Homo sapiens: one gene and its partners. The protein of the gene in region 5 purifies or fractionates together with the protein of the main gene of each other region. This does not show direct contact. Each region holds a gene or a part of one and is shown on either strand. Other genes may lie near its edges. The genes, in order: ARHGAP19, TBCEL, SPTB, SLC17A5 and RASA3.

Evidence for each region.
Region 1: the proteins of RASA3 (region 5) and ARHGAP19 fractionate together in Homo sapiens (co-fractionation; one large-scale study listed by BioGRID). This does not show direct contact.
Region 2: the proteins of RASA3 (region 5) and TBCEL fractionate together in Homo sapiens (co-fractionation; one large-scale study listed by BioGRID). This does not show direct contact.
Region 3: the proteins of RASA3 (region 5) and SPTB fractionate together in Homo sapiens (co-fractionation; one large-scale study listed by BioGRID). This does not show direct contact.
Region 4: the proteins of RASA3 (region 5) and SLC17A5 fractionate together in Homo sapiens (co-fractionation; one large-scale study listed by BioGRID). This does not show direct contact.

The regions. Positions count from the first base shown.
Region 1 is NC_000010.11:97,289,563-97,296,666, reverse strand, and holds the start of ARHGAP19 (rho GTPase-activating protein 19), read left to right. Parts: upstream 1-4,029; 5' UTR 4,030-4,039; coding exon 4,040-4,095; intron 4,096-7,104. UniProt on the Homo sapiens protein: GTPase activator for the Rho-type GTPases by converting them to an inactive GDP-bound state.
Region 2 is NC_000011.10:121,042,581-121,048,979, reverse strand, and holds part of TBCEL (tubulin-specific chaperone cofactor E-like protein), read right to left. Parts: intron 3,307-6,399; 5' UTR 3,290-3,306; coding exon 3,157-3,289; intron 1,453-3,156; coding exon 1,313-1,452; intron 1-1,312. Other genes in the region: TBCEL-TECTA protein, read right to left, coding at 1,313-1,452, 3,157-3,289. UniProt on the Homo sapiens protein: Acts as a regulator of tubulin stability.
Region 3 is NC_000014.9:64,747,178-64,752,638, reverse strand, and holds part of SPTB (spectrin beta chain, erythrocytic), read left to right. Parts: intron 1-2,389; exon of another isoform or gene 2,390-2,484; coding exon 2,485-2,658; exon of another isoform or gene 2,659-2,942; coding exon 2,943-2,985; exon of another isoform or gene 2,986-3,165; coding exon 3,166-3,333; 3' UTR 3,334-5,461.
Region 4 is NC_000006.12:73,593,910-73,600,308, reverse strand, and holds part of SLC17A5 (sialin), read left to right. Parts: intron 1-1,352; coding exon of another isoform or gene 1,353-1,450; intron 1,451-5,094; coding exon 5,095-5,232; coding exon of another isoform or gene 5,233-5,248; 3' UTR 5,249-6,399. UniProt on the Homo sapiens protein: Multifunctional anion transporter that operates via two distinct transport mechanisms, namely proton-coupled anion cotransport and membrane potential-dependent anion transport.
Region 5 is NC_000013.11:114,007,852-114,014,250, reverse strand, and holds part of RASA3 (ras GTPase-activating protein 3), read left to right. Parts: intron 1-1,002; coding exon 1,003-1,109; intron 1,110-3,002; coding exon 3,003-3,080; intron 3,081-3,139; coding exon of another isoform or gene 3,140-3,181; exon of another isoform or gene 3,182-3,596; intron 3,597-4,786; coding exon 4,787-4,864; intron 4,865-6,399.

The DNA of each region.
Region 1 (7,104 bases), on a different chromosome or scaffold from region 5:
GTTAATCAGGCTGGTCTCTAACTCCCGACCTCAGGTGATCCGCCCGCCTCGGCCTCCCAAAGTGCTGGGATTACAGGCATGAGCCACTGCGCCCAGTCTCAGAAATTATCTTATTTTACTCTTCACCATACCCTTGTGAGACTTATTATCCTCATTTTACAGAAGAGGAAATGGAATCAGAAAGCTAAGTAACTTATCCAGGGTCACATAGCTAGGAGCTCTGGAGCCAGGATTTGAACTTGGGTTTATTAACTCCAGAGCCCATGTAACTACTGTGCTGTATTTTCCCAAACATTATATAAACATGTGATTTGGCCAGGTGTGGTGGCTCATGCCTGTAATCCCAGCACTTTGGGAGGCCGAGGTGGGTGGATCACCTGAGGTCAGGAGTTCGAGAGCAGACTGGCCAATATGGCAAAACCCTGTCTCTACTATAAATACAAAAACTAGCCGGGTGTGGTGGTGGGTGCTTGTAGTCCCAGCTACTCGGGAGGCTGAGGCAGGAGAATTGCTTGAACCTGGGAGGCGGAGGTTGCAGTGATCCGAGATCATGCCACTGCACTCTTGCCTGGGTGACAGAGTGAGACTCTGTCTCAAAAAAAAAAAAAAGGTGCGATTCTTCATTAAAAAAAATGAACCAGAAATATAGTTTTGTGGCGTTCCTCCTAGTTGCAGTGGTAATACTTTAAAGTTTTGAACAGTTTTTCTTTTGTGAAAGCATCAATTTCATTCAATCCATCAGTCCATGTGCTGGGTGTCATGGGGCTAGAAACAAAACTAGTTCTTATTTTGAGGGAAGGGCAGAATTTGAGCCTTGGGTTCCTTGCTTTGTATATATAGCAATTAACACAACCTGGATTTTCTTTTCTTTCTTTCTTTTTTTTTTTTTTTGAGACATAGCCTCAACCTATTGCCCAGGCTGGAGTGTAGTTGCACGATCTCGGCTCGCTGCAACCTCCATCTCCTGGGTTCAAGTGATTCTCCTCCATCAGCCTCCCGAGTAGCTGGGATTATAGGTGTGTGGCAACACGCCCGGCTAATTTTTGTATTTTTAGTAGAGACAGGGTTTCACCATGTTGCCAGGCTAGTCTGGAACTCCTGACCTCGGGTGATCCACCCGCCTCAGCCTCCCAAAGTGCTGAGATTACAGGTGCGAGCCACCTCGCCTGGCCTTTTTTTCTCTTTTCTTTTCTTTTTGAGACAGTCTCACTCTGTTGCCGAGGCTGGAGTGCAGTGGCACATGATCTTGGCTCACTGTAACCTCCACTTCCTGGTTTCAAGCGATTCTCCTGCCTCAGCCTCCTGAGTAGCTGGGATTACAGGTGTGTGCCACCATGCCCGGCTATTTTTTTGTATTTTTAGTAGAGATGGGATTTCACCATTTTGGTCAGGCTGGTCTTGAACTCCTGACCTCAAGTGATCTACCTGCCTCGACCTCCCAAAGTGCTGGGATTACAGGCGTGAGCCATCACACTTGGCTTCTTTTTCTTTTTTTGTTTTTTGTTTTTTGTTTTTTTGAGACAGGGTCTTGCTCTGTCAGGGTGGAGTGCAGTGGCATGAACATGGCTTGCTGTAGTCTCAATCTCCTGGGCTCAAGTGATCCCAGCCTGGATTTTCTAAGGCTGTCTGAGGTTCAATGAAAAATTTCACTGATACGTTTGCTAAATTTTATGTTTCTTTCCATGTATTTGCTCAATAAACATGATTTGTTAAACATCAAACTAAATAAGACTGGGCATGGTGGCTCACACCTGTAGTCCCAGCACTTTGGGAAGCCTAGGTGGGTAGATCACTTGAGTTCAGGAGTTCGAGACCAGTCTGGCCAACGTGGCAAAACCCATCTCTACTCAAATACAAAAATTAGCCAGATGTGGTGGCACACACCTGTAATCCCAGCTACTTGAGTGTCTGAGGCTGGAGAATTGCTTGAACTCGGGAGGCAGAGGTTGCAGTGAGTGGAGACCATGCCACTACACTCCATCCTAGGCAACAGAGTGAGACTCTGTTTCAAACAAAAAACATAAAAAACATCAAACTAAATGCAATTTTATTTGGACACATTTATCAAACTTTTATTTTCTTTTTTAGAGAAAGGGTCTCATTCTGTCGCACAGCCTGGAGTTCAGTGGCACAATCATAGCTCACTTTAACCTTGAACTCCTGGGCCCAGGTGATCCTCCTGCCTCAGCCTCCAAAAGTGATGGGATTATGGGTGTAGGCCACTGTGCCTAGCCCTTATCAAACTTTTAGTATTAATTCATCAATTGAAAAAAATCTATTAGAGTATATGATTTGATTTTTTATTTGGATATAATAGTTTGAGGACTTGCTTATATTTTTCAAAAATATTTATTGGACAGCCATTATGTGCCAGAAACTGTGGGGAGCAAAATAAATATAGTCTCTGCCCACTTGTGGCAGGAAGCCTAGCTGGGAACCCTCACATGAAATAAATAGTCACACAAATGACTATGTAATTGTGAGTTGTGATATGAACTGTGAAAGAATAGTACAGAGTTCTTTGTGAAAGTTTACTGAGGGAATTGATTTATACAATGGGGGTCATGGAAGATCTTTGAGCCAGTGACATTTAAGCTTCGACCTGAAAGCCAAAAAAGTGGAAAAATGGACGAGCCAGAAAAAGCAACATGTGCAAAAGCCCTAAGACAGTTCAGAAAGTGAAGCATGTGCAGTACAGTTTAGTAAAAAGGAGGCAGAGTGCAGGGAGAGCCCCAGGTGGCAGGATATCAGAAGGATCAATACAGAAATTCCCGAGAAAAGTCCAGCATAGGAAAACAATATGGAAAAACAAAAAACAACAATGCTCAAAATTTACAATGTTCTCACATATGTTGCCTCAGTTAATCCCTAGGAGAAGTGTGTGCCGCAGGGAGGACAAGGATAATTATGGTTATTCCTACCATTGAGGATTAAAGTTTAGTTTGGGACAAAGTCATGCAGCTTTTGGTTCCATGGTTCATATCACAAGGCAAACTCTGTGGGTTCTCTGGGAAGTTGGAAGGGAGTGAATGTATTGAAGCAGAAATGACCGACTCCAGCCTGGCCAACAGGGTGAAACCCCATCTCTACAAAAAGTACAAAAATTTGCCCTGTGTGTTGGTATGCTGCAATATTGTACTGTGCTCCAGCATGGGAGACAGAGGGAGACCTTATCTCAAAAAAAAAAAAAAAAGAAAGAAATAAAGGAAGAAAGAAATGACCTATGGCTAGGGCTATGCTGAGTATCTGAAGAAAGAAGGCTTTGAACTATACGTTTAAAAGCAAGTACTTCTAGGTTGCCACTCCCTGCCTGCACTTGAGGGATTTATCTCTGGGTCAAGACAGAGAACGAGTCTTGCATTAAATTACATTAAATTAAATGAATTAATTTATGGCTGGGTGCAGTGCCTCATGCCTGTAATCCCAGCACTTTGGGAGGCTGACATAGGAGGATTGCTTGAGCTCAGGGGTTCGAGACCAGCCTGGGCAACATGGTGAAACCCTGTCTCAACAGAAAAAAAAAATTAAAAAAATTGTAAAAAAAAATTATTTATTTTCAACTTTTATTTTAAATTTAGGGGGTACATGAGTTGGTTTGTTATCTGGGTATATTGTGTGATGCTGAGATATAGGGTACGGAGTCTTGCATTTTAGAAAGTGATGAGTCACTTTCAAAGTTGACAGTTCTATAATTCCCTGATTTACATATCAGGACAAAATTTGAGCATAGGCTGGTGATTTCTGACTTGAACCTAAAGGTCTGTGGAATCGGAAGGGTTCATCAAAATGAGAAACTACAACTCCCGGCAGGCCTCGGGGCTGGGTCTTCTTCCCCGCCCCTCCCTCTTTTTCCGCCAGGGCTGGGAACGACCAATGACGGTTAGTCATTTGAATAGACCAATAATATATTAAACGGTTCAGGTTGAGGAGGGGCGGTCGAGTCATCCAATCGCACGGAAGAGGTGAAAACATATTAGCCAATCCAAATATGTGGGGGCGGGACGTAAGGTGGGGCGGTGAAAGAAGTTTGCTGACGAAGATGGCGACTGAGGCACAGAGTGAAGGGGAGGTGCCAGCCCGCGAATCCGGCCGGAGGTGAGCTGAGTTTGGTCCAGTTTCCTGGGAAACGCGGCCTTGGGCTGGTAGTCCTGCCGCCTTTGCCTTGGGTCACGGAGGCGCACGGTTCGGGCTTTGTTTCTTTCTCCCACGGCGTTTCTCATCGTCGCGCCTGCGGGGGCTGAGGCGCGGGGGTCGGGCCTGGGCGCTGGACTCCAGCCAAACCCCCCGCTCGGTCCTGCCGGTGCCCGAGGGGGCTCCTCCCGCTGCGCTGGCTGCAGACGTCCAGCTGGGGGTGGCAGCGCTGATCGCTTTGGCGCCGAGACACCTCTTGATGGCGAGGAAACGGAAGTCCAGGGCTGGTTAGCGAATTCCTCACTGTTGCACACAGCGCTTCACATCTTCTCCGAGGCACTTTGTGCGTTCAGGTCCGAGCAAGGATTTGAGTGTCAATTAGAAACAGTGTTGAGTCCTTGGGCCAGTTTTTAAACCTCTCTCGACTTCAGTTTCTTCATCTGCAAAGGGACGTGAGGATGCCTATTTCCAAGTGTCAAGATTGAATAAGACAATCCATTTAAAGCTAGCACTGAGTTTAGCCGATAATGACAACTCTACGCAATAGATTTTCTTCTTCCTAGTAGAACAGCTAAGGAGCAGATGGGAGAGGGATCTGTAGTCCAGGACATCATGACTTTATTTCCACAGGATGTTCTTTCCTAAACAGCCACACCGAGATTTAGCGTTTTCAGGAGAGAATTTCGAGGTGGTGTTGCCTTAGCCTTGAGACCTAAGTTGTCTTAATTGATTACAATTTTGTTTTTGGTGTAATTCAATAGATTGAGTTTATTTACGTTGCCTCAGTGTAACTCAGTAAAATACTTCGGTTTGGCGTCTTTTGGTTCCATTTGTACCGAATAAGAGATTCCAAGAATCTTGGGAAACTAATAACTTTGTGACTCGGCTTCTTCCTGAGCCCAGATGAGCGTGGTTGAGTGTGTTATTTAAAATATCATACGGGGCCGGGCATGGTGGCTTACGCCTGTAATCCCAGCACTTTGGGAAGCCGAGGGGAGCGGATCACCTGAGATCAGGAGTTCGAGACCAGCCTGGCGAACATGATGAAAGCCCGTCTCTACTAAAAATACAATAATTAGCCGGGTGTGGTGGCGGGCGCCTGTAGTCCCAGCTACTCAGGAGGTTGAGGCGGAGGTTGCAGTGAGCCCAGATGCGCCATTGCATTCCACCCTGGGTGACAGAGCAAGACTATGTCTCAAATAAATAAATAAAATAAAATATGATATGGAAGAGTTTTCCACTCTTTTTTGTTTTGTTTTGTTTTTGTTTTGCAGTTGCAAGATTTCATAGAGTGAAATAGAGTGAAAACACAGCTCCCACACAAAGGGAGGGGACCCAAAGTGGGTGGCCGTTGCTGGCTCTAATGCCTGGGTTTATATCCTGATCCTTGTCCCTCCCGCTGTGCTCTCAGGCAAGAGATGATTGGCTATTTCTTTACCTCCTGTTTTTGCCTAATTAGCATTTTAGTGAGCTCTCTGATTGGTTGGGTGTGAGCTAAGTTGCAAGCCCCGTGTTTAAAGGTGGATGCGGTCACATTCCCAGCTAGGCTCAGGGATTCTTAGTTGGCCTAGGAAATCCAGCTAGTCCTGTCTCTCAGTCCCCCTTCTCAACAGGAAAACCCAAGTGCTGTTGGGGAGATTGGCCGATGACCGCCCTAACTGCTTCCTGCTGAATTGGGGCGTAGTAGGGGTTGTGCAGTTGAGATTTCCTCGGGAGGGTTGCCTTCGATGTCATTAACATCGGAGCATGGGCTAGCAGGCTGTTCCAGGGGTCCGCGGTGGATCTTAGTCATAGACTGCATCTGGGGCTCCATTTGAAGAATGATTTGTAGTTTTACAGTTTCAATTCTGGAAGAGACAAACGCTTTGGATGCCCCTTCGTGGTCACCAAAATGTTACCGGGGGTCCTTGCTCACAGAGCTCCCAAGATGGTGGCCAGCCGCTTCTAAGATGATGGCGGGCCGCTTCCAGGATGGTGGCAAGCCTAGTGTTCTCTGACCTGGGGTTCTCAGCCTCACCGATTCCAAGGAATGGAATCTTGGGCCATGGGGTGAGTGTTACAGCTCTATTAGAAGCTGTGGGTCACGGAAGAGAACCGTGGAACCCAGTGACTGGTGTTCAACTTGATTAGGACGAACCCAGGCACTTAGCCATGCAGGAACAATGGCAAGCCTTTAGCACGATCGGGAGTGGCAATGGGAGTCTCACTGGATCAGGAGCACAGCAGACACCCTGCCAGATCCGGAGGGATGGGAGTCAGCAGCGGGATGGGAGTCAGCGGCGGGTCTGCGACAGCGGCAAACAGCAGTGGTAGAGGGCGAGCAAAAGCTCAGCTCCAGCCATAACAAACATAGACCAGAAGAGTGCAGTTGCAAGATTTAATAGAGTGAAATAGAGTGAAAACAGAGTTCCCATACAAAGGGAGGGGACCCAAAGGGGGTTGCCCGAGTTTTCCACTCTTGAAGCTGCCTATAAATGGTTGATCATTTTTTTTTTTTGCCCGGGAACTGTAGAGGTGATTGATACATTTGATTAGATCATCCTTCATCCAGTTCTTTAAAAATTTCTAAATTTTGGTGAAAATCTGAGGACAAATAAAATACTATTCCATAGCAAGAGTAGTTTGAATTTATTTTCTTTTCTTTTCTTTTTCTTTTCTTTCTTTCTTTCTTTTTTTTTTTTTTAACACAGGGCTCCTTCTGTTGCCCAGGCTGGAGTGCAGTGATACGATCACAGGTCCCTGCAGCCTCAACCTCCTGGGCTCAACTGGTCCTCCCTCCTCAGCCTCCTGAGTAGTTGGGACTACAGGCACGTGCCACTATGCCCAGCTAGTGTTTTTGTTGTTGTTGTTGTTTTGTTTTTTTGTAGAAACCGGGGTCTTGCCATGTTGCCCAGGGTGGTCTTGAGTTCCTGGCATAAGTGATCCTCCTGCCTTGGGCTCCCAAAGTGCTGGGATTATAGGTGTCAGCCACTG
Region 2 (6,399 bases), on a different chromosome or scaffold from region 5:
CTGCGATAATCTGACTCTGTCTGTGAGACAGCCAGGGAAAATTTCACAGAGGAATAGCAACTTGGGCCAAGTCTTGAAGGATAAATAGGAAGTGGCCAGGTAGACAAGAAAAGAAAGAGAGCAGTGGGTTCAGAATGAATAAAAGCAAGGAAGCTTTTTATTTTGAGTTTATCATGAGCTGCAAGTAAAAGTATATGGCTAAAGAGGGAGAAAAAGTTCTAGAAATAGCAAAGGGCCATATGATGAAGGGTCATGCTTATAGAGTCAGACTTTAGTTTCTAGGCAAAGAAAGGCAACTGTAGGCCTTTATGCAGGACAGTGTCATAATCATGAGTCATATATTAAAAGGAGTCTGTGGTAGCACTACGGAAGACAGCTTAGCAGAAACAGAATAAAGCTGGATCCAGGAAAACCCATTAGGAAAGTCTTCCTAAAGTCAAATCAAAAAATAAGAGCCCAAATTAAGGCAGAAGAATGAACCAAGTAGGAAGAACATTTTAACCTTCTTCTTCAGGGTAGCTCCTATCAGGTAATGTTATAAGCAGGTAGGTAATGTTACATATAATAATAAGAGAATGTTACAAAACTGTATTTGTGTACTTTTACAAACTATGTGTGTAGTTTATAGTTACTCTGAGGTCAAGACATCAGTTATGTCAAACCACCCAAGGGATTTGATAATATAAGAAAAGTTGTAAAATATTTGAATAAATTTCAATAACAAGAATAAATATATTTATATATATTCTCAGTTTCAACAATTTTATGTCAATTTTCAGTAATAAATATTGAAGTAGAAGTAGAGAATGAGCATAAGATGTATAAATTAGTGAAACAGTAGAAAATTTAATGCACTGTTAGCAGTTTAAGCTGACAAAGACTAATCAACCTCTTGATGCCTAAATTTCCTTAGTGATTGATGAAAACAAATGAACAATGAAAAATAAATTAACAATAACAAAGCAACAATAACAATAACAAAGCTAACGAAAAATCACCATAGATAGAGTCAGTTATTTGCCTTTTTTTTTTTTTTTTTTTTTTAAATTAAAGATGGGTTCTTGCTATGTTGCCCAGACTGGTCTTGAATTCCTGGGCTCAAGTGATCCTCCTGCCTCAGCCTCCTTAGCACTGGGATTATAGGCCTTATTTATCTTGATATAAAGACATACAGACAATAAGATATACAGACAACAAGAAGTCATACAGACATCAAGTGAGAACAGAATTTAGCAGAACATATAATAACATAAACAATGACACAATGGTTATTGCTGCTTTTCACTAAAATGTAGCAATATAAAAACTTCACCTCATGCCAGTCTTCGAGTTTGTTGTCAGAAAGATCTAGTTCCGACACATGAGCGCAGAAAGCAGCAATTTCTTTTTCATCTCCTGCACAGGTTATTCCACAGCTGTTCAACACTAGTACACTTGGGAGGTTGAGGCGATCTGAATGATGAGAGACACAAAATGTTTTCTATATCAGCCAAATTCTTGTCTACATATGTTCAGCCCCCAGGAAGTGTCAAGAAACAAAAATCAAACTGTGTGAAATTACATAAGGATCTAGAAAATACAGGATATAATGGGACCAAAGGGTACTGAATCCTAAGAGGAGACAGCCAGTTATTGCCCAGGAGGAGTTCAGAAGTACTGCACCCGTACCACCAAAAAAAGTCCTCTAGGCTTTAACTCATAGCAGGATTGTTTATCTCAATTACCAACAACAGAGCCCTCATCCACGCTATCATCTTATCATCTGAACAAGAGATCCATGAAATTCATGTGTGGACTACCAGTACTTTCTTATAGGCCTCAATTCTTTCTTTTTGAAATTTAGTTCCAAAGTATTCTGGATGGCTCTTTTCTCTCTATCTGATGTGTATCTTTATCTTTTGTGCCTCTGAAAATCATCTCAAACCATTAATCTACTAAATCACTTCTGTTAAGTTTACATCATTCAAGAAATCTTCCTCACTTAAGTGGATCCATTCAGAACTCTACATCTCTCTCTCTTGTCTATCAATTATCTCCATTTCATATCCCTACAGAATTTGTCCCTTATGAAAATTAGCCTTCTTTAAAAATTTAACTGTAATGGAAGAAAGTGTTTCAGTCTTAAACTATTAACATTGAATTTGGTCAAACTGAGGTAACAACTTTTTGACTACTGCCTGGTTCAAAAACACATGTGTCAATAAAATCACTCTTACAATCTCTACTAAAAAGGATAAACATGAGAATGCAACCACTCTTTTCCCATTTGGTATAAAACAAGGACTCATCAAGGTAGTACTTTATTAATGGAGACCTCAAATTACATGGTTTTCAACTTGCTACTTTCAGCAACATATTTATCACAGTGGGAATGGATCCCGGAAAAAAAAAATTACCAAGTAAGAAATCCACTTCTCTCTGCCATTCCAGGTTACATAGAGATAAAATTATTGTATTTAGAAACAGCAAACACTCAGTAACCTTTGAAAGTAAGAACTAAAACAGTGACTCAATATTAATCCCCCACAATTACAAAAAACTACTTCCAAGAACTGTTAATGGCAACATTAAGCTAAAAGACAAGCAAAAATATACCTTGCACACTTCTAGTTACAGATTTTTGCTCACATCTAATCCCTCTCCTAGAATGTATCTCATCTCTAACCAAATTCTACATTCTTGAAGAACTAGTTAAAATCTCACAGCTTTGAATCATTTCTTGATCATATTAATTATCTTTTAAATTTCTTTCCAAATCACTATACCATTCATTTGGCTCAACATAAATTGTCTTGTGTTTATTTACCTTTGTAAATGTGAATGTCTTGTAAACCAATTAGGCTATGAGGTCCTGGAGGGCACAGGCCAGTCCTGTACTGTTTTGTACCCTCTATGTTCCATAAAAGAATATGCATTTGAAATATTATCACTCAAATATTATTCCTGTCATACACATGCAACTAAAACATCTCTTAATCAATCTGGAGGAAAACCAGTCCTGTTACGTTCTTTAGAAAACTGAAATCATAACAAGGGGGAAAGACTATTTGACTGTAATTAAAAATAAAATAAATCATTTGCAAACAAGGCAACACTGTGATTTAACATCCTAAGTAAGCTCCACTAAATAAGTGTTTTAGGTCCCATCTTTCTTACCTTTCATAGGAGAGCCCTGAGGTGTGGCTGGGACATGGACTCCCATCCCCGGGCCACGGCGATAAGGAAAATTTTCAGGACTATATTTTTCACATAATACTTGCATGAAACTTCTTCCACTAGGTTGATCCATCTTTCTTTCTTAAAATGCTACAAGAAACCAAGAAATAATCAAATTATGTAATTATGTATTTACTCACATAAGAAGTATTTATTGAAAACCCATTATGTATAAAGTACTAGACTAGGCATTGCAAGACATATGATACTTAGTTACTGACCCCAGAAACATATACTGTGGTGACAGCTTACAATTTAGGGAAGCTACATATACAAATGACAGCAATAACAGTTGAGCATATATCTGCAATACAGATGAAAACTATTACAAGATTTAGAAGAGGAGTTGATCACTTCCAACCAAGGGCAATGAGAAGGCTTTTGGCTGGTACATAGGATTCATGTGGATAAGTAATTGAAGAAAGGTCTGAAAAAGAAGGTACAGATTGAACATCAGGCTAAACAGTTTGGATGAATCCTTTAATATCTGTCCCTAAAATCCATTATCTTCTTCCATAGTAAAAGAACCTTTAACTGGATAACTGGATAACTGTATTTGGGAATGAGTGCTGGCTAAGTTCTAGCTCATGGGCTAGAAACCAAGTATTCTGTGGCAGCTTCTAAGAATCATCGTTAAAAGATGACCAGAGTGTGCCACTTGCCCTCCTTTGTTTCTTCCTCCATCTGTTGCCTAGAAAACTGATGCCACCAGACAATGAACCCAAGGAATATACACTAAGAAAAGTGGGACGAATTGCTGAAAGGGCTCTGCATCCCTGAGGACTTCATGTAACTGAGCTGCCATACTGGTACATATCTCTGGAAATTTCAATGACAGATAAGTAACCTATTTTGCTTAAGCCATTGTTCTTCTCAATTTTTTAGTTACCTATAACTGGACCTAATCCTAAATAATACAAAATGTCATCTCTTTTGGTTCTGAGTTTGGGTAGAGTCCTTTCTGTTTAGCATCAGCTAAGGGTCCAAACACTGAATGATTCCAGCATCTGAGACGATGAGTACTGAGAAGGACTCATGCATACATTAAAACAGGTAATATTAAACAACACGCTAACTTCTAACAACCTGATAACTCATTACTTAAGGGGCTGGCCTATGATGCATATTAATCAAAATATAGGCAGCTAAAATTGACCTCTGTAATTTCAACTATTAGGTATCAGGCTTTTTTACTAAAATAATCAGTAGGGAGAAGGATATACAGGCTCTGGAGTACTCAGAGAAGAAGGGATATCATAAGAAAAGGAACTGTAGTCAAAATGTATTATGGTATATATGAGTAAGCACAAAATATCTGATGTTGCCAAAGCAGCCTGGCAATGGTAGACATTGTCAGGAGCATCTAACTAGGAGCCTCAGAGGAGATCTTGTATACCACATTAGGAGGTTTAATGTTATCCTACAGGAAACGGAAAAAACTGAAAGGTTTTAAGGAAGGGAATACAACAACGAAGTTTTAGGGAAAACTCATCCTGAGAATCATGGAGCTGATGAATATGCAGGAAACAAGACTGAAGGCTGGGAGAAGAGTTAGGAAGATACTGCAAAAATACAGCAGAGAGATCGTGAGAGCTTGAAGTGATTCACTGGTAGAATAAATAGAAAGCAGAGGCAGATTCACGATCATGTTAAAAAGCAAGCTATTCAGAAATTACAGGGGCTGAGGGAGAAGGTAAAGTCAAAAATGACTCCCAGGGTTTCTAGTTCAGGTGACCAGGTGACTGGTGATACCATTAACTAACAAGAAAGCAGGAACAGAGCCAGTTTTACAGAAGAAAATGATGAATTCCACTTTATACGTGTTCAATTTGAAGTGCCTGTGGAACATCCAGGGAAACAATCTGGAGTTGAATGAGAAAAATGAGCTAAAGATGAAGATTTGGACACCATTACGATATATAAAATTTTATGAATAAGGACAATAAGACAATAGTCACTGATATTTAAGGGACAGGCAGAGGAAACAGAGTCATGAAGAAAAAGAAAGAAAACAGCCAGACAGTAGAGTGTTTAGCCAATATTTTGAGAAGTTTTGCTGGGAGTGGAGAAGGAAGATGGGATGATAAGAGAGTAGGGAATCCAGGCAACTGTCAAGATTTTATATCTTAAAATAGGAAAGACCCAAACATGGTTATAGATTACAAGGGAGAAGCCAGTAGCCCTGAAGAGGCTGAAAAATCACCACCCGTACTTTTTCCTAGAAGAAACTAGCAGGAACAAGCACCGAAAAGCTTCTCAGAAGGCTGTTTGATATTAGCCAGATAATGCTTCAAATTGCTTCCAATTAGTGGTGACATATTTACTTCACTATAGTTACTGGTTTACTTTTGCTTATATTGTTTAATTATAATGAACGTTAGGTATTTTTCTTATGTGGTTATCCTATCTCTACCATTACATTATAAAGGGTAGTGGAACTGTGTAATCCTATTTCTTTCAGTATCAATTCATAGCATCAGGCATAGTTTATTATACATGGTAACGGTTTGATAAACGTTGCCGAGTATTAAAATCGCTAGCCTCTCAGGTGCTGAGAAGAAAGGGCAGAGAATTCAGGATGAAGGGCAGGTTTACGCCCACCCAGTTCTGACTACATAATAGTTTTGTGCCATCAGGCAAGTCACTGTTATCTCAAGTGTCTTCAACTATAAAATAAGGTATTAACGTCTCTACTATATGGATTACAGGGTTGCTGTAGAGCCCTAAAATATACAAATGCACTAGTTGGATTAAAGGGCCATTGTAAAGTTCTAAAATATATAAATGTTAATTCTAAGAGGAAGTTGTAGTACAATAGAAAGCACATGGACATAAGAAATTTAAGCTCTTTCCCTAGCTGGGTAAACCACAGGCTAATTATCTAATCTCTCCCTACTTTAATTTTCTCACTTATGTATGGTCTAAACCTTCCTCTCAGGTTTGTAATAAGAATTTGAAAAAAGTATGAATATAAAAGTGGTTGTTAAACTTGGCTCATTTCCTAGATTACTACCAGGACCATGATCTACTGGACTTTGTGGAATCAATTTACAAATGCCTAGAACACAGGAGATGCTCACTGAGCACATGCCCATCCACTGAACAAAAATTTTCATGATAAATGGCATCAATATCATAATGAGTAAAGTGACCTTGAAAATAGAGGGCTGCCCTTTGCTCAAG
Region 3 (5,461 bases), on a different chromosome or scaffold from region 5:
CTACTATGTGCCAGGCATTATATTAGGACTGATAAAATCTTCCCAACAATCCTGTGACATTGATGTTTCTATTTTCCAAGGGGATAACAGAGTCTCGGAAAGGTTAAGTCATTTGTTCAAGGCAAGCTCTTTCTCCAAAGACCCAGCTCCTTCTTAGTAACTGCCTTTCTGCCAGAGGAAAGATCCCTGAGCGCGGAGTCAGAAATGGGGCTTCGTAAAATGGCTTTGCAGCCAGCTTTGTATGGGTCAGTTTCTCTCTCTGACCTTCCAGAACTTCCTCCCTATGTGCCCTACTAGTTTCTCCACCTTCCTGCCCTCAAAAGTAAGGGAGAAGAGGGAGAGGAGAGGAGGGAGACAGAAGAGGAGGATGAAGAGGAGGAGGAAACAGAGTCTGTTGCTGTAGAAATGCAGCAACATGCTTCCCACGTGTGAGTGAAGCGGCTCGGGCTAGCCCACCTGTTATCAGTTTGATTCCCTCACCAAACATGCCAGTTGACATGAGCCCTATTTGTCTTTTTTTGTGTTTTGTTTTGTTTTGTTTTGTTTAGACAGAGTCTCACTCTGTCACCCCGGCTGGAGTGAACTGGCTCAATTTTGGCTCACTGCAACCTCCGCCTCCCAGATTCAAGTGATTCTCCTGCCTCAGCCTCCTGAGTAGCTGGGATTACAGGCACGTGCCACCACGCCTGGCTAATTTTTTTTTTTTTTTTTGCATTTTTAGTAGAAATGGGGTTTCACCTTGTTGGTCAGGCTGGTCTCGAACTCCTGACCGCATGATCCGCCTGCCTCAGCCTCCCAAAGTGCTGGGATTACAGGTGTGAGCCACCACGCCCGGCCGACATGAGCCCTATTTGTAAAATTTGTTCCTTTAAAAAGTTTAGTATACTTGGCACATCTCATCAAAACAGAAAACAATCACTGAAACAAAACCCTGTTCATTCCTTCACAGTTCTTTAGTGAGAATCAAATACACTGATGGATGTAGAAATATTGTAAAAAGTTAATTTTTTACTGTTGGTCTTAAGACGTAATAGTTCTATAAGTGTACTTCAAGGTAAGATCAGAATTATAGGCACAGATTTATGTGTAAGAATGTTCATCACATTGCTATTTAAATTATGGGCACATTTTCCAGTATTATAAGGTTCATCAATAAAGGGATTGTGAAAGTCTTCCACATAGCTATTCAAAATTATTTTAAGAAATATTTGAGGATAGGGGCCGGGCGTGGTGGCTCAGGACTGTAATCCCAGCACCTTGGGAGGCTGAGGTGGGTGGATCGCCTGAGGTCAGGAGTTTGAGACCAGCCTGGCCAACGTGGTGAAACCCTGTCCCTACTAAAAATACAAAAATTAGCTGGGTGTGGTGGCTTGCGCCTGTAGTCCCAGCTACTCGGGAGGCTGAGGCAAGAAAATCGCTTGAACCTGGGAGGCGGAGGTTGCAGTGAGCTGAGACTGCACCACTGCATTCTAGCCTGAGTGACAGAGGCTCTGTCTAAAAATATGTATATTATATATAAATATTATATATTATATATATTATGTATAATATATAAATGTTATATACTATAAATGTTATATATTATATAATATATAATTGCTACATATATAATATATAACATAATGTATAATATATAATGTATTATATATAATGTATAAAATATACATTATATGATGTATAAAATATGTATTATATAGTATATGATATATAATGTAATATACATATTTTATATATTTATATATTTCATATAAATATATATTATACATAATAGGTATATATGTTATATAATAAATATGTAAATATTATATAAATTATATAATAAAAGTATATATAAATATATATTACATATATACTTTTTTTTTGAGACTAAGTCTCGTCTCTGTCACCCAGGCTGAAGTGCAGTGGCTCAATCTCGGCTCACTACAAGCTTCGCCTCCCGGGTTCAAGCGATTCTCCTGTCTCAGCCTCCTGAGTAGCTGAGACTGCAGGCATGCGCCACCAAGCCCGGCTAATTTTTGTATTTTTAGTAGAGATGGGGTTTTACCACGTTTGCCAGGCTGGTCTTGAACTCCTGACCTCAGGCGGTCCGCCCGCCTCGGCCTCCCAAAGTGCTGGGATTACAAGTGTTAGCCATCTTGCCTGGCAAAAAAAGAAATATTTGAGGATATGGAGAAATACTCATGATTTAGTGTTATGCTTAGAAACACGATATAAAATTGAATATATCCATAACCCAGTTTTAGCTATCTGTGACTAGTAAAAAAAAAAATGCGAAAATGTGAAGACTAGAAGGAATACATAAAATGTTAATAATAGCTAATTTTTTGTAATGAAATTACATGCAGATGATTTTTTAACAATAAAACATGTTACTATGTATCAGAACAAACATGGTGTAATTTTTTTTAATGGTGAAGCTATAGGAATTGACTCTAGAGATACCATATCAGGATGTGGGTGACCTGCCTGTCTGCATCTTTGCAGGTCCTGGAACAACCTGTACTGTGTGCTCAGGAACAGTGAGCTAACCTTCTACAAGGATGCCAAGAACCTGGCCCTGGGGATGCCCTACCATGGGGAGGAACCCCTGGCCCTGAGACATGCCATCTGTGAGATTGCTGCCAACTACAAGAAGAAGAAGCACGTCTTTAAGCTGAGGTGAGGCCTTCCTGGCCTTTGAAAGCTCGGGTTGATGGCTTGATTTGGCATTAGTGGCAGGGCAGAGGCCCTCTGTAGGGGACCAGTGCCAGGCCTGAGCTGCTCCTCAGGGGTTTTTCAAATCAAAGAGGCTGATGGTCCAGACTTTGACCTCTCAGAAAGTGCTGGGCTGCCTGAGAGGGGTCTGGATGTTCGGCTCAGGGTATTGTGGGATCAGAGCCAGCCCTCTGCCCAGCGCCCCCTCCAGAGGTGTCTCCATGACAGGAAACCCTTTGTCCTCCTAGGCTGAGTAATGGCAGCGAGTGGCTCTTCCATGGCAAGGATGAGGTAAGCGCGGGCAGCCTAGCCCAGACCTGGCTAAGAAGGGGGTAGGTGGAGGACCCCAGGCCGCTTGCCCTGGAGGCCCCCTCAGAAGGGGCAGTCCCAAGAGCCCCCACCATTGTTGCCTGGCCCGGGAGGTGGGGGGCTGTGGGCCTCCAGACTCCACCGTGACCCTCCGCCCCGCAGGAGGAGATGCTGTCCTGGCTGCAGGGCGTGAGCACCGCCATCAACGAGTCCCAGAGCATCCGCGTCAAGGCGCAGAGCCTGCCCCTGCCTTCCCTCTCCGGCCCCGACGCCAGCCTCGGCAAGAAAGACAAGGAGAAGAGATTCAGCTTCTTCCCCAAAAAGAAGTAGCAGGTGGGGCTGGCGGGCGCGGCGGAGTCGGGACGCGCAGAGACCGGGCAGCCCAGGCCTTGGCCTCCTCTCGCCGCCGCCCGCCGGTCGAATCGAGATGAGTCGAGTCGCGGGCCGGGCCCCCGGGCCCCACGCTGCACTGCAAAAGCTGCCTTCGCCCGCGTGTCCTGGGCCGACGCCCCCTCCATGCCCTCGCCCGCGCTGGCTCCGCTCCAGGGACAGGGGCTCCCAGCTCCTCTGGCGCCTTTGGGGCCTCCAGGCCTGGGGGCAGGAAACGGTTCTCTGAGGCACACGCCCTCCTCTCCCACCCTCCTCCTGAGCCGAGGGGGCACAGGCCCCTTACCCCCAACCAAAAAAAAAAAAAAAAAAGAGCTGGAGAAGGCTGATGGGGTTCTTCAAACGCTGCCCGTTCCTAAAGCAAGTCTTGCTTCGGGTCACCTCCCACCTGGTGGCAGCCAGGGAAAGGGGAAAGGAAGAAGACACTGGAAATGCATGGCCAGCCCCCTAGGGGCATGAGGAAGGAGCCTTCAGGTGGCCCACAAAGCCCTAGCTCTGGGCCAGGGGCTCTGGGGGGCTGAGGGGACCAGACTGGGTGCAGGGCCTTGGGAGCTGCCAGCCTCCTTCCCACTGGGCTTCCGCAGAACTGGGACTCTCACTTCAGGGGCCACCACATCCCTCCTCTCTGCTTCTCCCCCCAGATCAAAGGGTACCCTCCCACGGTTGGCAGGGCCTGGCTGAGTGCCTCTAGCACCCTTTGTGCCACCACAGGCGGTCCCAGGAAGGGCAGCAAGGTCAGACCATTCCTCATTGAAAACCGTGGCTAGGGCACAGGGCTCTGATCTGAAGGAGTGACAGGTGCGTCACAACACTGCCTAAGGCTCTCCCTCTCAATGCTGGGACCCTCGCCCCACTCCCAGTGGCAGCCAAACCAGCAATATCCAACAGACATAGGCCCCCTACGGGACAGTGTGGGCCCCCAGATATAAGATGGATACCCCCCGCACCTGCAGTAAAGCATCCCAAAGCCAAATGCTCAATTGCATCCTGTCTGCAGCTGGGACTTTGGAGGGTAATGGCTGGGCAGACAGTAAAGTTGATCATCTGTTTTCTCGGGGTGGCAGACGCAGCCATGTCTTGGTATCACCACCCATGTGACAGCTACTCCTGCACAACTGGGACAAATGTCAGGGCCAGAGCCATGAAGGTGTGGTACCCCTTGATCAGCTTCTCCACGTCCTGGCCCCAGGTCTTGGCGGGGAGGGGGTCACATGAGTACAGAGGTCAAATATCTACCACCCTCCAGCCCTGAGCACCAGAAGCTCTGCAACCAACGTCCCCAGGAATGGCCTTCCCCTTGCTGCTCAGGTCATACTTCTGGAGGAAGAGAAAGCTCATTCCATATTTTCCCCACCACTCTACTCCGAAAGCAACACAGTTCTGGCCCAGTATCAAACTAGGGTTAGGTCCAAGAGAGCAGTCAAGCGGGTCGGGGGTGGGGGGGAGGGCGGAGGGCAGCAGGCATTTTCCCCCAAGGAAACCATGAAAGTCCCCAGGGCCTGCAGTCAAGTTTCTATCACCTTCCCCGTGAGAAGGACCTTAGTTCCATGGAGATGAAGTGGGTGAGGTTCAGGTAGAAGCCACAGGGGCAGGCATCCAGAATGAGGCCCCCTGAGGAACCCTGAGTGCTGACCAGTGCCGGCAGAAATCAGTTCCACCCTGTGGCCCTGACACTATATGTCAGGGTGACACCAACTGCAGCAGGCAGGAGCCACAGGAAGGAAGACGTCATCCGATGGAGCCTGACATCCCCAGGTTCCCGCCCTGGTGAGCAAGGTCTTCATTTGGCTTTGGTACATATGACCCTATACAGGGAACCTAGTGTGTATCACTCACCAGCCTCTTTCTGTATCTGGGGAAACCAAGGCAGTGAGGTGACTGCACTCACCTAGCAATAAAGTAGGCCTTTGGTGCACTTGCAGGCATGTCCTCCTCTGGGGCAGAGAGCAGGTTCCTTGCTGAAGGGCAGATGGTGGCAAACATCTCCCTCAACTGTTTCCCTGGGCCAGTCTTTAGGGAGCCTAGGGACAAGGGCCCACCCTCCCCCTTCCACGTGTGCCAAATCAGCACC
Region 4 (6,399 bases), on a different chromosome or scaffold from region 5:
TGCACATCTGTGTCAAAGTTCAGTGTATTTTAATTAAGTTTAAAATTCTAAATGTTCTTATGAAATTCTTTTTAGCAACAAAAAGCTAAATGCCTTAATGGATGGGAAAGTATATTTTCAAAGAACAGTTTTTGGATTTTAGACAAAACAATTGAACTAAGTCAAATGAAGACACTGTAGCTGAAACCACACAAGTAGTTAAAAGTTGTGATATTGGCCGGGTGCAGTGGCTCATGCCTGTAATCCCAGCACTTTGGGAGGCCGAGGCAGGTGGATCACGAGGTCAGGAGTTCAATACCAGCCTCACCAACATGGTGAAACCCCGTCTCTACTAAAAATACAAAAATTAGCCGGTGTGGTGGCAGGTGCCTGTAGTCCCAGCTACTCAGGAGGCTGAGGCACAAGAATCGCTCAAACCCAGGAGGCGGAGGTTGCAGTAAGCCAACATCACCACTGCACTCCAGTCTGGCAACAGAGCAAGACTCCGTCTCAAAAAAAAAAAAAGAATTTCAGGACATACTTACAGACTTTCTTATTACCAAATATACTGATTTCAGACATATATCCGACAGATAGTGTTCCTACTTCTTCTCCACATCTACCATTTCTAATTCCTTAAGTGACACGGTACCTGTTACTATTTCCTCTCACTTAATAAAAAGGAATGTTGTAGAAATGCTTTTTCTAAAGTTCTGTGTCTCAATATGGACATGTCCAAAATGTTTAACCTTGTCCTCATGGAGCAGGGTGGCAACACCAGAACCTAAGTCAGCTCACTACCATGTGTTCATTTCACTTACTGATAATGCCAGCACTTCTGCTAGGGAAATATGGATTCCTGAATTACAGTCTTGTATGTTTACAAGTGGGAACTGCGCTTGATTTGGGATATGTTACAGCATTTGTTTAATGCTATTAAAAGGATATCACTGTTTTAGCTGGGTGTGGTTTGTACCTGTAGTCCCAGCTACTTAGGAGGCTGAGGCAGGTGGATGCATAAGCCCAGGGTTTTGAGGCTGCAGTGAGCTATGATCATGCCTCTGCACTCCAGCCTGGGTGAGAGCGGGAGACCCTGTCTCAAAAAAATAAAATAAATAAAAAATAAAAATAAAAAAATAAACAAAATAAAATAAGTTTCGCACTCCGTTGCCCAGTCTGGAGTACAGTGGTGCAGTCTCAGCTCACTGCAACCTCTGCCTCCCAAGTTCAAGCGATTCTCCTGCCTCAGCCTCCCAGGTAGCTGGAACTACAGGCACTCACCACCATGCCCTGCTAATTTTTGTTTTTTGTTTGTGTGTGTGTGTGTTTTTTGGTTTTTTTTTTTGAGACGGAGTTTCGCTCTTGTTGCCCAGGCTGGAGTACAATGGCGCAATCTCAGCTCACCACAACCTTTGCCTCCCGGGTTCCGGCGATTTTCCTGCCTCAGCCTCCCGAATAGCTGGGATTACAGGCATGTGCCACCACGCCCAGCTAATTTTGTATTTTTAATAGAGACGGAGCTTCTCCATGTTGGTCAGGCTGGTTTGGAACTCAGGTGATCCGCCCATCTCGGCCTCCCAAAGTGCTGGGATTACAGGAGTGAGCCACTGCACCCGGCCAAATAAAACTCTAAAGTATATTATTTTTAAAAAGGAAAAGCACACACTTACCTTCACAATTGTAATTTCTTTCTTCTTTTTGAGATGAAGTCTCACTCGTCCCCCAGGTTGGAGGGCAGTGGCGTGATCTCAGCTCACTGCAACCTCCGCCTCCCAGGTTCAAACAATTCTCCTGCCTCAGCCTCCCAAGTAGCTAGGACTACAGGCACGTGCCACCACACCCGGCTAATTTTTGAATTTTTAGTACAGATGGGGTTTCACCATGTTGGCCAGGCTGGTCTCGAACTTCTGACCTCAAATGATCCACCCGCCTCAGCCTCCCAAAGTGCTGGGATATCAGGCATGAGCCACCGCGCCCAGCCTGTAATTTCTTACTTTGAGCACTGCCTCAAAAACTTTGTGGAATGAGTCAGCATATAAATAAATAATGCAATAATTAAAATTCAAAGTGTGTCTGAGGTTCAATGTTGTTATAAACAAAACAGTATTCTCTAAAAACTGGTGGAATTTTTGTTAAAAAACAAACTAGGAGCTGTGTGAGACTTGTAGTACAACGATTGATTTTAAGTTCACTCATTGCCTTCAGATAACACTGAAGTATTATTTTGTCCCAGAGACCACACAGGGCAGCTTTGTCTTAGTAATCCTAAGAAGCTGTTTCAAACATTTCTTTCTGGTATAAGATGTAATTATTGACTGATTCCTCAGCAGAATTTAAGATGAGTATCTAAGATTTTTTTTCATTAAAATGCACTCATCTCAGACAAGTATAGCCACCACAGGGTGTTTCTTTCTTCATGTTTCTCCTTTTTTCCCAAATAAATGACCTCATACTGGCTTCCCAGTGCCTTCTCTTTCACTTCCTCATTGCTAGTTCTACTGCTTGTTTGTTTGGGTTTTTTGTTTGTTTGTTTGTTTCTTTGTTTTTTGAGACAGGGTCTCCATCGCCCAGGCTAGAGTGCAGTGGCGCAATCATGGCTCACTGCAGCCTCAACCTCCCCAGGCTCAGGTGATCTTCCTACCTCAGCCCCCCAAGTAGCTGGGACTACAGATGTACACTACCATGTCCAGCTAATTTTCCTACTTCTTGTAAAGATGGGGTTTCACCACCTTGCCCAGGCTGGTCTCAAACTCCAGGGCTCAAGGTAGCCACCTACCTCGGCCTCCCAAAGTGCTGGGATTACAGGCATGAGCCGCCATGCCTGGCCTGCTTGGTTTTTTTTGTTTTGTTTTGTTTTGTTTTTGAGACGGAGTCTCACTCTGTTGCCCAGGCTGGAGTGCAGTGGCACGATCTTGGCTCACTGCAAACTCCGCCTCCCGGGTTCACGCCATTCTCCTGCCTCAGCCTCCCAAGTAGCTGGGATTACAGGTGCCCACCACCACGCCTGGCTAATTTTTTGTCTTTTTAGTAGAGACGGGGTTTCACCTTGTTAGCCAGGACAGTCTCCATCTCCTGACCTCGTGATCCGCCCACCATGGCCTCCCAAAGTGCTAGGATTACAGGCGTAAGCCACCACGCCTGGCCTGGTTTATTTATTTATTTATTTTTGAGACGGAGTTTCACTCTTGTTCCCCAGGCTGGAGTGCAATGGCATGATCTCAGCTCACTGCAACCTCCGCCTCCCAGGTTCAAGCAATTCTCCTGCCTCAGCCTCCCGAGTAGCTGGGATTACAGGAGCCTGCCACCACGCCCAGCTAATTTTTGTATTTTTAGTAGGGACAGGGTCTCGCCATGTTGGCCAGGCTGGTCTTGAACTCCTGACCTCGGGTGATCCACCCACCTCAGCCTCCCAAAGTGCTGGGATTACAAGCATGAGCCACCACGCCCAACCAGTTTTGTTTTGTTTTGTTTTTGAGAGGGAGTCTTGCTCTGTTGCCCAAGCTGGAGTGCAGTGGAGCGATCTCAGCCTCACTGCAAGCTCCACCTCCCAGGTTCACGCCATTCTCCTGCCTCAGCCTCCCGAGTAGCTGGGACTACAGGCACCAGCCACCACGCCCGGCTAATTTTTTATTTTTTTAGTAAAGACGGGGTTTCACCATGTTAGCCAGGATGGTCTCGATCTCCTGACCTCATGATCCGCCCGCCTCGGCCTCCCAAAGTGCTGGGATTACAGGCGTGATCCACCACGCCCGGCCGTGTGTTTCTTAGTTAATGCTGCAAATGTAGTCACCACTCTGGTTAGACTGAAATTGAAAAAATCCAAAAAATGGTTGTTAAAGGTAGTCACATGACCCAGAAATTTAGATAACTGTCTGATATTTTTATGCCACAGGGTTATACACTGAACAGTTGTCTTACTGACAGATCCCATGTTATATCCTGCTTTGTATGCCATTCAAGATCTTTTATACTTGCCAGGCCTCTCTCTGATGTCACAGATCCTCAAAGCTGAACTTGAGTTCATCTTAACAGTATTTACTTGATCCACCTGACACCTTTCACCTGAGAACCCAGGAGACCGTGCACAGGCATAAGACTTTCTTAGTGTTAGTTAGTGTTAGGCATGATTCAGGGACATGCCAGTACACTTTTTATTGAAGTATATCTATCTATCTTCAGTAAACTTTTTATTGAAGTATAACTTTTTTTAAATGCACAAATCCAGGCCAGGCGTGGTGGCTCACACCTGTAGTACCATCACTGCGGGAGGCTGAGGCGAGTGGATCACTTGAGCCCAGGAGTTCAAGACCAGCCTGGGAAACATGGCGAAACCCCATCTCTACCAAAAATATATATATATATGTATATGTATATATATACGTATATATATATATATGTATATGTATATATATACGTATATATATACATATATATACACACACAAAGAAAATTAGCCAGGCATGGTAGCATGCACCTCTAATCCCAGCTCCTTGGAAGGCTGAGTTGGGAGGATTGCCTCAGCCCAGAAAGTGGAGGCTGCAGTGAGCCGAGATTGCGCCACTGCACTCCAGCCCGGGTGACAGAGTGAGACTCTGTCTCAAAAATAAAAACAAAAATAAATAAATGCACTAATCTAAAGTGTGCAGCTAGATGAATTTCCACAAAGTTAATACATCTGTGTAACCAGCACCCAATCAAGAAACAGAATATTACCTCCCTCAGTAAGACCCCAGGTACCATTTCCTCCTATTTTTCCTTCACCCTCACCAAGTGGAACCACTCTCCCAACTTTTAACCCCATAGATTAGTATGGTCTGACTTTGGGCTTTATATAAATGGAATAATTTAGTATGTACCTTTTTTGTCTGGCTTCTTTTGCTTCATATTTTGTTTGTGAGCTGTATTTATGATGTTGTAGCCCATTCTCATTGCTGTATTGTATTACGTTGAACAAATATACCACTATCCTACTGCTGGTGGACATTTGGGTTGTTTCAAGGATGAGGCTTTTATGAATAATGTGGCTGTTTTAACACTCTTGTGACACTATCTTTTTAATGAAGTGAACTACACACAAAATTTTATTTCACTTGCATTTTTTGTCTTCCTTTATAGAACACTGTTGGAGAATGGCAAACCGTGTTCTATATTGCTGCTGCTATTAATGTTTTTGGTGCCATTTTCTTTACACTATTCGCCAAAGGTGAAGTACAAAACTGGGCTCTCAATGATCACCATGGACACAGACACTGAAGGAACCAATAAATAATCCTGCCTCTATTAATGTATTTTTATTTATCATGTAACCTCAAAGTGCCTTCTGTATTGTGTAAGCATTCTATGTCTTTTTTTAATTGTACTTGTATTAGATTTTTAAGGCCTATAATCATGAAATATCACTAGTTGCCAGAATAATAAAATGAACTGTGTTTAATTATGAATAATATGTAAGCTAGGACTTCTACTTTAGGTTCACATACCTGCCTGCTAGTCGGGCAACATGAAGTAGGACAGTTCTGTTGATTTTTTAGGGCCATACTAAAGGGAATGAGCTGAAACAGACCTCCTGATACCTTTGCTTAATTAAACTAGATGATAATTCTCAGGTACTGATAAACACCTGTTGTTGTTCACTTTCCTCATAAAAATTGTCAGCTCTCTCTGACACTTAGACCTCAAACTTTAGCATCTCTGTGGAGCTGCCATCCACTGTATAATTTCGCCTGGCAACTGGACTGAGGGGAGTGTGCCCAGGCAGCTGCCAAGCACTCCCTCCCTGGCTTCAGGGTCAGAGTGCCCAGCGTTTATCAGAGGCAGCATCCAAGCCCAGAGCCAGTGTCGACTCTTCGGCTGGTGCCTTTCCTCTGAGGGGCTATCAATGTGTAGATAAAGCCCTGAGTAGGCAAGAGCAGTGAGATCCACTGCTATGGTCTTGATACATCCTCAAACTTTCCCTTCCCAGCACAGAGGAATATTGGCTGGCATGCAACCTGCAAAAGAAAAATGCGAAGCGGCCGGGCACGGTGGCTCATGCCTGTAATCCCAGCACTTTGGGGGGCTGAGGTGGGCGAATCATGAGATCAGGAGTTCGAGACCAGCCTGGCCAGCATGGTGAAACCCCATCTCTACTAAAAATACAAAAAATTAGCTGGGCGTGGTGACGGGCGCCTGTAATCCCAGATACTCAGGAGGCTGAGGTAGGAGAATCACTTGAACCTGGGAGGTGGAAGTTGCAGTGAACCAAGATCACGCCACTGCACTCCAGCCTGGGCGATGGAGCGAGACTCCAACTCAAAAAAAAAAAAAGAATAAAGAAAGAAAAGTGCGATGCCCAGTCAATCACAAATAAGATCATCCTGGTTTAAATCTACTCTCACATGGATCACAGTATAAATTTCTATGTGCTGTGTTTTGTTCGTT
Region 5 (6,399 bases):
GAGCACAGACCACTGTGGAATGAGACACCAAAGGGGCTGCGCTGTGTGGTGGTGATGAGAGATGGAGAGAAACAGGGAGAGATGGAGAGAGAGGCAGAGACAGAAGGAGAGAGACAGAGAGAGACAAGGAGAGAGAGAGAGAGACAGGGAGAGACGGAGAGAGAGGCAGAGACAGACGGAGAGAGAGGCAGAGACAGACGGAGAGAGAGATAGAGACGGAGAGAGAGAGATGGAGAGAGACAGAGACAGACGGAGAGAGATGGAGAGAGAGATCGAGACGGAGAGAGAGAGAGAGAGACAGAGAGATAGAGACAGGGAGAGAGAGACGGAGAGAGAGAGACAGAGAAAGAGAGAAAAAGAGAGAGACAGAGATAGGGAGAGAGACAGGGAGAGAGACAGAGAGATGGAGAGAGAGACAGACGGAGAGAAAGAGACGGGGAGAGAGAGATGGAGTTAGGGAGAGAGACAGAGAGGGAGAGAGACAGAGAGATGGAGAGAGAGAGAGAGAGCCAGAGACAGACGGACGGAGAGAGAGAGGGGGAGAGAGAGAGAGAGACAGAGATAGGGAGAGAGACAGGGAGAGGGACAAAGAGGGAGAGAGACAAAGAGATGGAGAGAGAGAGAGACAGATGGAGGGGGGGAGAGAGCCAGAGACGGAGAGAGAGAGAGAGAGACAGAGATAGGGAGAGAGACAGAGGGACAAAGAGAGGGAGAGAGACAGAGAGATGAGAGAGAGACAAATAGAGGGAGAGAGAGAGAGACAGAGATACGGAGAGAGACAGGGAGAGAGACAAAGGGGGAGAGACAGAGAGATGGAGAGAGAGAGGGAAACAGAGAGAGGGAGAGAGGGAAACAGAGAGAGGGAGAGAGACAGACACAGGTGGAGATAGAGCCAGGACTGTGGCTGGACTTCCCTGCGGACCCTCAGGGGGCCGGGGCATGGTGTCCCCACGAGGCCATTGTGCCCGAGGAAAACGGTCACCCTGCTTCTCTCTCCCGCAGATGACCCGGACGTCAGGTACACTGCAGTGAGCAGCTTCATCTTCCTGAGGTTCTTTGCGCCCGCCATTCTCTCCCCCAACCTCTTCCAGCTCACGCCGCACCACACGGTGAGTGACCGGCTGAGGGACCGAGGCTTTCTGAGCTGTCCTGCGACGCCGGCCTGGGTTGGGGCATCTGCGTGGCTGTAGGGGGCCGACCGTGTGGAGTGTGGAATGCGTGGGGAGTGTGTGAGGAATCAGGAGTGAGTGGGGAGTGTGTGTGGAATGAGGAGTGAGTGGGGAGTGTGTGTGGAATGGGGAGTGTTTGTGGAATGAGGAGTGTGTGGAGTGCGTGGACTGCGTGGGGAGTGTGGAAGGCATGTGGAATGGGGAGTGTGTGTGGAATGAGGAGTGAGTGGGGAGTGTGTGTGGAATGGGGAGTGTTTGTGGAATGAGGAGTGTGTGGAGTGCGTGGACTGCGTGGGGAGTGTGGAAGGCATGTGGAATGGGGAGTGTGTGTGGAATGAGTGAGTGGGGAGTGTGTGTGGAATGGGGAGTGTGTGTGGAATGAGGAGTGTGTGGAGTGCGTGGACAGTGTGTGGGGAGTGTGGAAGGCGTGTGGAATGGGGAGTGTGTGTGGAATGAGGAGTGAGTGGGGAGTGTGCGTGGAATGAGGAGTGTGTGTGGAATGGGGAGTGTGTGTGGAATGCATGGGGAGTGTGCATGGAATGAGGAGTGTGTGTGGAATGCGTGGGGAGTGTGTGTAATGAGTGAGTGGGGAGTGCGTTTGGAATGGGGAGTGTGTGTGGACGGTGCATGGGGAGTGGGGAGTGTGGAAGACGTGTGGAATGGGGAGTGTGTGTGGAGTGTGTGGACGGTGCACGGGGAGTGTGGAAGGTGTGTGGAATGGGGAGTGCGTGTGGAGTGTGTGTGGAGTGTGTGGACGGTGCGTGGGGAGTGCTGGTGGATGCGCTGGGTCCTGGAACGTCCTCGTTGCAGGTGGTTCACCGACCTATTTAAGCTGTGTACGTTCTGGGGGAGTCGAGACAGTGTCACAAAAGCAGTGGACGGTTTGTCCAGGGTTTTAGCTGCTGGTCACCGCCCTGCTCTCCTCCCCTGCCCATCACATATGGAGTATTGATGATCGGCGTATCATCCGTGTATTGAGTCAACAGATTCCTATTTAGCACTGATTTTCTCCAGGCCCCAATGTGGTTGCTGGGGCCGCAGCTCTCAGGGTACAGGGATCTGGGGTGACCGTGTTGCACGTGCGGGTGGCAGAGCTGGAAGGAGATGGCCAGGGCGAGAGGACGTGAGGGATTGCCCATTCCCCAGCACTTCTTTTTTTTTGAGACAGAGTCTTGCTCTGTCACCAGGCTGGCGTGCAGTGGTACCATCTCAGCTCACTGCAACCTCTGCCTCCTGGGTTCAAGCAATTCTCGTGCGTCAGCCTCCCTAGTAGCTTGGATTACAGACGTGCGCCACCACGCCCAGCTAATTTTGTATTTTTATTAGAGATGGGGTTTTACCATGTTGGCCAGGCTGGTCTCGAACTCCTGACCTCAAGTGATCTACCTGCCTCGGCCTCCCGAAGTGCTGGGATTACAGGCGTGAGCCACCAAGCCCGGCCCCCAGCACTTCTGAGTTGAACCTTCAAACCCTGTGAAGGCTGAGATGAGCCCCAGGCAGGGCCAGGAGACTCAGCACCCCGAGACTCAGCGCCCCAGAGCCATGACCCCACCTGATGCTTTCGACTTTGAGATGCACCCTGCACGCTGGGCCGAGAGAGTGGGTCACCGCGGTGCCGTCGGATGTTGCCTGCGGGATGGTCTCAGCAGCTCCTGAGACTGTGGGACGCCCACCCCCTCCAGTCCCATCTGCGTCGCTACCCCTGTTTCTCCGTAGCTCATGCACAAGCCACAGCAGCTCTGAGGTGACTCCTGCATTTCGTCCCCTCGATCTGGGACAGTCACAGCATTTCTGTGATGCTGACATAGACCTTTCTTGCTCCCGCCTCCCCAGGACCCCCAGACGTCCAGGACGCTGACATTGATCTCCAAGACCGTTCAGACCCTCGGCAGCCTGTCCAAGTCCAAATCTGTGAGTCCCTCTTCTTCATTTTCTCTTTTTAGGGACAACTGATTCTTTTCTCTCTTCAGAAAATACACGTGAAAAACCTCCCACATTTGAGAGAGTCGTAAGATAAAGATCAAGAATCAAAGCCGGCACCACATCCTCTCTTGAAACCCAGGACCTGAGCGTCCCCGTCCCGCTCACCTCTCCCCTCCTAAAGTGAACCCCTTGCCTTTTTCGGGAGCCTGTGGCTCGTCGCCGGCCCCGTGGCAGGAGCAGCATCTGACCTGTCAGGTGTGGGAAGCGGCTGAACAGGCCAGGCAGATGGCCTAACCTGGCGCCTCCTGGGCGTTGCGGTGCTGGAGGCTCCTCGTCACGCAGCCCCCTACTCCCCTCGCGGCCCCCTCCTCCCCACGCGGCCCCCTCCTCCCCACCTCCCCACGCGGCCCCCTCCTCCTCACATGGCCCCCTCCTCCCCATGCTGCACTACCTCCCCATGCAGCCCCCTCCTCCCCACTTCCCTCCCCACGCAGCCGCCTCCTCCCCACGTGGCGCTTCCTCCCCAAGCGGCCGCCTCCTCCCAACGTGGCGCTCCCCTCCCCACGCGGCCCCCTCCTCCCAGGGCCCCTCTCTCCCTGTGGATATGAACCTCCGTCCTCCATCCTCGTCCCTTCAGACTGGATCTGGTGCCACCAGGTCAGGAGTCCCTCAGGCATCTGCCCCATTTCCCCCTAAGAGCACCTTGTGTGTTTGAGGGGGTCAGAGCTGACGTTTGAGGCGTCCCGGGGGCAGTGCTCCTGGTGAGGCCCAAGGCTGTCTCTGCAGGGGCCAGGCCAGGGCAGTTCGATGCCTTCGGGCCCCCTCGGGGCTCCGTCTGGAGAGGGCTGGGCTGTGGTGCACAGATGCCCAGGCCTCCTGGTTCCCTGTTCTTGGTGGGGCCCAGGTAGAAATGAGGGCTTTGGGGAGCAGAGGCCCCCACTGGAGGAGCAGCCCGCTTGGGGCAAACGTTGGGTTTCTCTGAGTCCGAGTGAGTAAAAGATGTGCCACACTCGCAGGCAGGCCGAGGTGCACCGACCGCTCTTTCCCACCAGCCAGGCCCTGCGCTGTGGGCTGGAAACTCCATAACAGGCACTTGAGCCTCCTCCGAGGTCTGCACCAAACCCACCTCATTTCACAGCCAGGGAACTGTGCAGTGACCTCAGTGTGGAAACAACAGGAACTTGGGGTCGAGCCTCAGGAATGGTGGCTGCAAAGGCCCCCCCGAATCCCTGGGTGCCTCCACTTCCCCGTGTGATGGAGGTCCCTGCCCCCTCTTCCCACCTCAGAGCGGCCCTTATGCCCCACGGGCGAGAGATGGGCGTGGGGGCTCTGGGACCCTGGCCTATGACTCCAGGTTCCCAGGCAGCCACATCTGGGCCCCAACGTACCTCTTCATGAGCCTGGGACCCAGGTGTGAGGGACAGCCCGGGGCCAGGACGGAGTCACTGATGCCAAAGGGTGCTTGGAGACCTCACGGGCACTGGCAGGTCTGATGGTCTTCGTTGGCGCCTGAGCGATTTATGTGATTCGTCCTCCGGGCAGCCCTGCGGGCTCTCACTTGCCCGGTAACACCGGGTTCTTTGCCTGTTTATCGTCATTTAGGCTTGGACAGTTCTTGCCTCTAGCTTTTTCAGATTTGGGCCGTGAGCCGAGGTACTTCGGGCTGTCCTCGAGTGATCTCCGTTTCATTTTAGGCGAGTTTTAAGGAGTCCTACATGGCTACATTTTATGAATTCTTCAATGAGCAGAAATATGCTGATGCGGTGAAGAACGTAAGTATCGACTCACCCTCCGACCGCCCGTGTGCCGTGCTCAGGAGACGGAGTTCTCTTTTAAAATTGAGATAGAACCCACATGACACAGACTTGGCCATTAGCGATTTTAAACAATAAAGGCGTTCGGTGCATTCACAGCGCTGTCCAGACAGCCTTGTCCCAAGTCCTGGGACACCTCCTCCCACAGTTGGTAAACTCTTTGGCGTGACTGCCTTTGGGGCCAAAACGGGGCCCTCGCCCATCTTGTTCTGTGTCTGAGCCCCCCGAATGAGGGCGCGTCCCACCTCAGTGTGTGTGGTGGCCGGACTCACTCTAGGCTGCAGTCGTGGAGCCCTGGGGCTGCAGACTCAGTGTCAGGAACGCGGTGCGTGGGGAACATCCAGACCGCAGGGCTCTGCTCCTCCCCACAGTTAGGAACGCGGTGCGTGGGGAACATCCAGACCGCAGGGCTCTGCTCCTCCCCACAGTCAGGAACGCAGTGCGTGGGGAACATCCAGACCACAGGGCTCTGCTCCTCCCCACAGTCAGGAACGCGGTGCGTGGGGAACGTCCAGACCGCAGGGCTCTGCTCCTCCCCACAGTCAGGAACGCGGTGCGTGGGGAACGTCCAGACCGCAGGGCTCTGCTCCTCCCCACAGTCAGGAACGCGGTGCGTGGGGAACGTCCAGACCGCAGGGCTCTGCTCCTCCCCACAGTCAGGAACGCGGTGCGTGGGGAACGTCCAGACCGCAGGGCTCTGCTCCTCCCCACAGTCAGGAACGCGGTGCGTGGGGAACGTCCAGACCGCAGGGCTCTGCTCCTCCCCACAGTCAGGAACGCGGTGCGTGGGGGGAATATCCAGGCCCCAGGGCTCTGCTCCTCCCCACAGTCAGGAACGCGGTGCGTGGGGGCAACCTCCAGGCCCCAGGGCTCTGCTCCTCCCCACAGTCAGGAACGCGGTGCGTGGGGAACGTCCAGACCGCAGGGCTCTGCTCCTCCCCACAGTCAGGAACGCGGTGCGTGGGGAACGTCCAGACCGCAGGGCTCTGCTCCTCCCCACGGTCAGGAACGCGGTGTGTGGGGAACATCCAGACCGCAGGGCTCTGCTCCTCCCCACGGTCAGGAACGCGGTGCGTGGGGGGAATATCCAGGCCCCAGGGCTCTGCTCCTCCCCACAGTCAGGAACGCGGTGCGTGGGGGCAACCTCCAGGCCCCAGGGCTCTGCTCCTCCCCACAGTCAGGAACGCGGTGCGTGGGGGGAATATCCAGGCCCCAGGGCTCTGCTCCTCCCCACAGTCAGGAACGCGGTGCGTGGGGGCAACCTCCAGGCCCCAGGGCTCTGCTCCTCCCCACAGTCAGGAACGCGGTGCGTGGGGGGAATATCCAGGCCCCAGGGCTCTGCTCCTCCCCACAGTCAGGAACGCGGTGCGTGGGGGCAACCTCCAGGCCCCAGGGCTCTGCTCCTCCCCACAGTCAGGGATGCCTGAGCCTCCTCACTACCGGGACCCAGATTCCCTGCTTAGAGTCACCCCTGGGTGGCCTCTGGAGATGCA